Regions from separate parts of the Homo sapiens genome. Here regions 1 and 3 are each linked to region 2. The links come from fine-mapping of genetic effects on gene expression. Tissue or cell type: whole blood. Region 2 holds a variant in brackets; each other region holds the start of a gene. All regions are shown on one strand. Distances are between the middles of the regions.

Region 1 (2,500 bases), 160 kb before region 2:
CTTAGAATAAATGGGGGTAGCCCTCGCACATCACATCACTATCATTACCAGGAAAAGCAACAACCCAGGGCAAATGGACATATCCATAGGGAACAGGCAGGGGAGTGGCAGAACTGCTACCAGCTGAGGCAAAAAGAGGAGAGTTAGAGGTTACACCAGAAAAAGAATCCAAAGGAGAGAAGGAAGAGGAGTCAATGAATTGCAAACTATCACTTGGTGAAGTTGAGAGAGCAAGAGGGTCTGCATGAGGGATGCCTAGGCGGGGATCCCACAGGTGGCAACCTCCTAAGTCAGAGGTACTACTGAGAAGGGGGCATCGCTGAAATGTGCAGTGAGTTTCAGGCCAGGTCTTTGCAGTTAGGGTCAGTGCCGAGGCCTAAAACCTTGAAATAAGAGTAAGGGGAAGAAAGACGCATTCCTAGGTGGCAAGGTAAAGTTGTGGAGGAGTAGCCAAAAAGAGCCAAAATCATGAACCTTGGGATGTGGGTGGGTTCGTGGAAACGGGTAGTCTAGGCGCCATATGTCGGGGTGTCCCTTGCTATTGGGGTCAATGGTAGAGATTCTGGGTGCACTGCATAACCTCAAGCAGCAGAAACAAATGTAACCTGGAGAGAAAGAACTGAGCCCTGAGAGGGGCTTCGGCCTCCCAGGTCCTTCGAGAGCAAAAAGCTGGATGGAGTGATCCTGGGTCCCTGACAAGGGGCCCCCACAGAGGCGCACGCGAGGGGGTCCTCACCGTGATGTTGCAGTGGATGCGGACAGGATCCCCAGGCACCGACCCCCGTGGGGGGAGATGCGGTCCGGGCGCGGCCCCCGCCCCGGCCCCTCCGGCCCCAGCCAGCAGGAACTCGCAGCTCAGCTCGTCCAGGCAGGCGCTGGCAATGCGGAAGCGCTCGTGGCCGCGGTGGAAGATGGACTCGAGCAGCTTCAGCTCTCGCCTCAGGCAGGGCCCCGGCCCCGGGCCCCCCCCTGGGCCGCCCCCGGCCCCCGGCGCCGCCCCCTGGCCCCCCAGCTGCTGCCCCGGCCCCGGCTGCTGCTGCCCCTGCGGCTGCGGCTGCTGCATCCTCCGCTCCGCTCCGCTCCGGGGCCGGCGGGCCGGGAGCCTCCGGCCTGCGCTCCGGGCTCCGCCGCCGCCGCCGCCGCCGCCGCCGCCGCCGCGGTCCGCACTTCCTGATCCCCCCTTCGCCAAGATGGCGCCGCCGCCACCTCCGGGACAGGCCCCCCCCTCCGCTCGCTGGCCCCCCCAGCCGCCGGAAGCCGCGCGCCCCTCCTCCTCCTCCTCCTCCTAGGCGGCCCCGCCTCCGTCCCCCTCACGTGACTTCCCTGCTCTGGCCTCCTCCACGTGATCTCTCCGTCTTTCCCGCCCCCCTGTTCTCGCCTGCCACCCTCCACATGTGACCCGGGGCCTGGGGCTTGCCTCTGTGGGCGCCTCAGTGCGAGTTTGCGTATGTCGTGCGTGCTTGCGCGCGACGCCCCTTCGCCTGCGCTCCCCTCTCACGTGACTCGGTGCCGCGTGCTCCCAGGGGCTACCCGCGCAGGACGCTGTTTCCTGCCCCGGGCGCCGCTTCCCCCGCCCCCGAGCCGTGGCGAGCGTGCCCGGCACTCCATGGACAGAGAAGAAAGAAGTGCTGTCTTCCCCGTGCAGTCTTTATCCTGCTCCCACATGCTGGTCTTCGGCGCAGGATCCTGGAGCCTCTGCTCCCCGTGGGGGTGGGCATGCTGTGTCTTCACACTCGGGTGGGTGGTCGGGGTAGGAGCCGGGAACCGGAATGGAAGAGGCGTGGATTCTCGTCCCAGCCCTGGCTCTCATGGCGTTTTGTGACCTTGGGTTAACCACTTTCCCGCCGAGTCTCAGTTTCCTCATCTGTACAATGGCTCTCATGAGAATGATGCCTGTTTTTCCTATTCCCAGGGAGGGATTCGATGCGAGGACACCATAAAATGAGGAATGATAATAGATCACTGCTGTGTTATGTACAAGTGTTAGTTAATATCAGGCCTTTCGCGCTTTTCAGACCCCATGGGTCTGGACGAGGTTGGGGGAAGGACAGCATGGGCTTCCTCCACAGAGTCATGGAAGGAGTGCTGACTCGGGTGGTCCCCATTCCCTTTCCTAGGCCTAAATGGCTAACACCTTGTCGCAGTGGTCTTGGCAGCTGCCAGGAGTAGGTAGTGCCTCCGGACCCTCGCTAGGTGGCACTATCACAAAGGACAAAGCTGGTTGAAGCTACAGAAATCCCGAGCTGGCGTTCGTTTTGCCAAGGGCAAGTGTTATTAGCCTGTGGTAAGGCCTAGTCAATTCTGCTGGGCCAACTCAGCCCTTAAACCACTGGTCAGATTGCCCCGTTTCTCTCCCACTTGTACTAAAATGAGCTAGCCTTTGCTGGAAGACTATTCAATTGCCTCTGCAGAGGCCTCCTTTGGTCAAGTTGGGGTATGGGTATTTAAAGACGATTATAGTCTGTTCCTGGTCTTCGTGGGGCCATTTATCTGGTTTAGG
Region 2 (2,708 bases):
TATAATGCTATTTATGTGATACTCAGTTAGGGTGGAGTTAAGCTGGCTTTTCTTTTCAGCAGGTCTGGGACCCTAACCCCATGCTGAGTTCCAAGGAACTGACCGCCCTAAAGCTGCCTGCCTGATGGTCTGAGAGCAAAGTGGATCTTGCATAGGCCGGGGGCCCACCCTCGCCCCTTTCTGGGCCTTCGTCTTCTCATGTGGGTTGGAGTGGCTCTTCCCTAAGGGTCCTTCCAGCTTAAACGCACATTGTTTCTGTGACTATTGCTAAAGAAAACCTGCACCCAATCTGTCTGGGACAGAACCTTGTGCGTGATGTAATTTATAATCCTCTTCTGGGGAGAATTAGCATTCCTGATAACTGCCCTATTGATTATCTGATCCATTGTAAAGACTTGAAGACTTGTTCTGGAAATCCACTGTTGAGCCCAACCAGCTGTCCATTAGCAGTCTTTAGCTAAACCTTCTATAATCTGGCATAACAATGACTACCATTGTTTTTCCTACGAAATACCACTACTAAGAGTAATCTTTGAATTAGCCTGCTGAAGAAAATTTTCTTCTAGCAAGATTATGATCAAACTTTGGCATATGCTTGTAATTAAAGAAAAGTTTTCTTCAGTGTCATTCAGGAGATAGTAGGTGGGGAAACTACTTAAAGGTTTTTGAGCAGGAAGTAATTTGTTCAGAGCTAAGCCTGAGAGTCTAAGGAGATCCATGGGGAAGCAGAGTGCAGGATGACTGGGGTAAGGGACGCCGAAGTGAGGAGAGCAGGTAGCAGGCTGCTGTGATAGTGCGAGACAGAAGATGGCGGCTTCAAGAGTGGCGGGGCCGAGGCCCTGGAGAGGCGGGCATGCGTGAACAGCCACGGCAAGGTGAAATCAGACACAGAAAGTGCTCAGACCCTCGTGGGGTCCAGGGTCCAGAGGAGTCAGAAATGGGGCTAAGTCTTTAGGCCTGGCGTCTGGAAGAACACGATGTCAGGAGCACACCAGGGAAGTTAGGAGAAGGAAATAGTTTAGGGAAGTTGTGGGTTTA[A/G]TTTTGGTCTTATTCATTGAATTCATGGGGAAGTGTACTTGGGTGAGCTACTTGGGGCAAGAAACCCCTGCAGCAAGAAGGAGATAGGATCCTTAGCACACTGTGCTGTCTGAAGGTTCTGCTCACTGTGGCTTGATGTGGAGAGTAGGTACCGCAAAGAAAATATCTCCGGTCCATGGTGCCTCCCAAGCCAAGTGTGTCCATAGCAGCCCACTCTGCCTTTTTTTTCTTTTTCTTTCCTTTTTTTTTTTTTTTTGAGATGGAGTCTCACTCTGTCACCCAGGCTGGAGTGCAGTGGCACGATCTCAGCTCACTGTAACCTCCGCCTCCTGGGTTCAAGCAATTCTCCTGCCTCAGCCTCCCGAGAAGCTGGGATTACAGGCACCCACCACCATGCCCGGCTAATTTTTTGTATTTTTAGTAGAGACGGGGTTTCACCATGTTCGCCAGGCTAGTCTTGAACTCCTGACCTCAAGTGATCCGCCCACGTCGGCCTCGCAAAGTGCTGGGATTACAGGCGTGAGCCACCGCACCCGGCCCACTCTACCTCTTATAAGAAGAAGTGCTCTCTGAGGGCAGTCAGCCACCAGAGGTTAGGGATGGAGGTGAGGACCACCTCTTACCCATCTTGGTGCCCCCAGAGTACAGAGTGTGGCACCCAGGGAGTGGCCTCTGTGATGGATCTGTTTAGCTACATAAAACAGAAAGATGGGGACATGAAAACACTAAGTGGCAGAAAAGATGGGGCTCTAGTATCTTTCTTCCAGTCCCTCTGTGAATCATGTACTTAAATATTATCTAGTAGCCCAGAGATTAGCAATAAGTTATAATTACAGAATAACAATGGCAGTGACACTGCGAAGTCAGTGTGGGAAGATCTGATTGAATTAAATACAGAAATGACGTTGCCACCAGAGTTGATAAGTCATACGAGGAAAGAAGATAAGCATGGGACTCAAGAAAAGCAGAAATTGAGTTCTTACCCAGTGCTATCAGACCCTCTTCCCTCCCTACAAACAAATAAATAAAAATAGTGCTGGCTCTCATGGCAAAGGCTAGGCTGCAGTCTTTAGAGCAAGACAGGATGAATAAATACTAGAACAATTTGAGTATTTTCTATGATTAATAGCTACAATTCCTTTTTTCGTTTTGCGTAGGTCTTTGAAGCATCAAGGTTGCATATACCGGTAAGAGACTGCTTTTATCTGTCAAATCTACTAATTGCCCACTCCGAAGAGGTTGCAATTATGCCACAGTCAACTCCTTCATGTTGGATCTTTCTCTGAGAATTCACTGAGATGTTATGAATAGACTGAGCTTAGCATTTTTTTTTTTTTTTTTTTTGAGATGGAGTCTCGCTCAGTTGCCCAGGCTGGAGTGCAGTGGCACGATCTCGGCTCACTGCAACTTTCGCCTCCCAGGTTGAAGCGATTCTCCTGCCTCAGTCTCCCGAGTACCTGGGGCTACAGGCACGTGCCACTACGCCCGGCTAATTTTTTTGGATTTTTTTTTAGTAGAGACAGCGTTTCACTGTGTTAGCCAGGAAGGTCTCAATCTCCTGACCTCCTGAGCCATCTGCCTCGGCCTCCCAGAGTGCTGGCATTACAGGCATGAGCCACCGCGCCCGGCCAAGAGCTTCTAAGGATCATGTCTGAGAGTGAGTATTTCTT
Region 3 (2,500 bases), 110 kb before region 2:
GGAAAGCTACGGAATAGGAGAGCAAGAAAGTGAGCAAGCAACCCACAGTGATCCTTTCTAAATCTCTCAGCATCACCTCTATGCAAATTACATAACAACTCATTTAACATTCATTGCCTCCCAGATTTCACTTTAATCTGGTCTCACATATTTAGGATCAAGAGATAAGCACTACCCCCTTTGCCTTTACCACACAGGTTCCACAGTGCAATACACTGACACCTGTGCAGAAATGCTTTTCCTTCAAGTTAGGCGTCCTTAATCCTTTCAAAGGAGTGCTTAAAAAAAAAAAAATATATATATATCTTAACAAAATTGAGGTATATAATTTAGATACAGTAAAATTTATCCTTTTAAGTGTATAAATCTATGAATTTCGACAATCGCCACCACAATCAAGATATAGAACATTTCTATTTCCCTAAAAAGCTTTTTCATGCCACTCAACAATCAATTTCTTCCACGATACCCAGTCCCTGGCACCCACGGATCCACTTTCCATCCCTATAACTGTGGTTTTTTTTTTCCAGAATGTCATATAAATGGACTCATACAGTATGCAGCCTTTTGAGTCTGGCTTCTCGTGCTTAGCATAACGCACTTGCGAGTCACCCGTGTTGTTACTTGTAACAGTATTTCCTCTTCACTACTAAGCAGTATCCCATTATGTGGATGTATTTCAGTTTATCTGTTAACCTGCTGAAGGCCATTTGTGTTTTCCCAGTTTTTAGCTATAAAGTGGTTAACAAGCTTTCTCCTACAGCTTAAGTGCCATTTTTAACTCCCAGAAGGCCTTCAGGAGGTGGATAAGGTGAGCTGAGGATAGTGTGCGCTGCTCAAAGTCCGAACGTTGTTCAAGTGGGGCTAAAGCGGGGGTAGGGGGTTCCACAAGGGGCCCTAGCAGAAAGGGAGACGATGTGTCTGCCTTGACATGGGCTCAGGCCTTCCTACTCAGACGGGGGCGCATTTTCCCCCAAGCCCTCTTCACGCACTGCTCCATTCTGCAGAATTAATGAGCAGGATACAAATTCACAAATTCCTAAACCAGCAATGCTGCTTGGCAAGACTACACACACACGCACACACACACACACACACTCTCACAAGACGCACAAATTCCTAAACCAGCAATGCTGCTTGGCAAGACGACACACACCCACACACACACACTCACAAGACGCACAAATTCCTAAACCAGCAATGCTGCTTGGCAAGACGACACACACACACACACTCTAACACTCACAAGACGCACACGCTACGCACTGCAACACAAAGCCTGTGAGGTTGTAAACGAACCCAGACGGCGGCGAAGGTCCAAGGCCGGCCCGGCTTACCTGCCGCGGATTCATTGCGCCCGCGAGGCATTGCCCGGCCCGACCCGCCGGCGGCACGACCCTGGCCCGACCGCTGGGCCGCGCCAGCCCCTCGAGGCCCCCACGCCTCCGCTACTCCGCACTGGAAGTGGCCCCGGGGCGTCGGCACGGGAAACTCCGCGGGTCTGCGCGCCGGGCCCAAGATGGCTCCGGTTCAATTTCGCTTTCGTTTCCTCGGAAAGCCTTCCCCTCCGGAAAGTTTGGCCAAGAGGAGGGGCTTGAGCAAATCTTGCGCCACGCTTGGTTTCAGGCCGGTTACAAGTCGAACCCCTCCGCTGCATGAGAACTACGGAAGGTACTTTTTTTTTTTTTTTTGAGGCGGAGTCTCGCTCTTTTTGCCCAGGCTGGAGTGCAATGGCGCAATCTCGGCTCACTGCAACCTCTGCCCCCCGGGTTCAAGCGATTCTCCTGCCTCAGCCTACGGAGTAGCTGGGATTACAGGCGAGCGCCATCACTCCTGGCTTTTTTTTTTTTTTTTTTTTTGTATTTTTAGTAAGAACAGGGTTTCACCACGTTAGCCAGGGTGGTCTCGAACTCCCGGCTTCAAGAGATCCGCCCACCTCGGCCTCCCAAAGTGTTGGGATTACAGGCGTCAGCCCCCGCGCCCGTCCGGTACTGTTTAGGAAAACCGCCGTTTCAGTACTGAGCTCCTAATTCCCCGCACAGGCCGTAGGCAGGAATACACGAATAGAGCAAAAGGAAAACAAAGGCACACAAAACCTCAGGCCAGAAACAGCATGACGCCCGGTCCTCCCTCTCTCCGCGCCAGCGCGGTGGTGGCCGCGTCTCCAATGTGGAGGGGGGGGGGAGGGGATGGGCGGGAGCGCAGATCTCGTCAAACGACCAAGGTCCCCACCGTGGGACCTTGTTAATGCTCCTACTATGTTATAAACTTAAGCAAGCAGATGCCAGCCAGTAAAAAGTACCAAGAGTAGCAACAGCAGCAGTGAACAATTTAGGATCTAGGTCATAAAAACTACCCCACCAGGCAAATGGTTAAGTACTTTACATGTATTATCTCCCTTAATCTTCACAACAGCCCTCCAAGGTAGGCATTATTCCCACTTTGCAGGTGTAGAAACCGAGGCTTGACTAAGGCCACGCTGCTGCCAAATCCAGGTCTG

Evidence for each region. PIP is the estimated chance that this variant, and not a neighbour inherited with it, causes the effect.
Region 1: UBE2Q1 starts here. The variant in region 2 is fine-mapped to the expression of UBE2Q1 in whole blood (TOPMed, PIP above 0.99).
Region 3: ADAR starts here. The variant in region 2 is fine-mapped to the expression of ADAR in whole blood (INTERVAL, PIP above 0.99).

The regions. Positions count from the first base shown.
Region 1 is chr1:154,557,491-154,559,990 of GRCh38, forward strand. It overlaps UBE2Q1 (ubiquitin conjugating enzyme E2 Q1), which reads right to left and starts at 1,172. Exons shown (of 13, transcript NM_017582.7): 1 at 737-1,172. The coding sequence starts at 1,063. RefSeq lists silencers at 767-866, 1,187-1,266, 1,357-1,446, 1,567-1,656 and enhancers at 1,026-1,607, 1,608-2,188.
Region 2 is chr1:154,720,024-154,722,731 of GRCh38, forward strand. The region is part of intron 5 of KCNN3 (potassium calcium-activated channel subfamily N member 3); the gene reads right to left. Among named protein-coding and RNA genes, the nearest start is that of ADAR, 110 kb to the left of the region's middle. The variant A/G (reference allele first, on the strand shown) is at 1,039.
Region 3 is chr1:154,606,655-154,609,154 of GRCh38, forward strand. ADAR (adenosine deaminase RNA specific) reads right to left here and starts at 1,532. Exons shown (of 15, transcript NM_001111.5): 1 at 1,338-1,532. The coding sequence starts at 1,352. RefSeq lists a silencer at 1,306-1,415 and enhancers at 1,416-1,805, 2,475-2,500.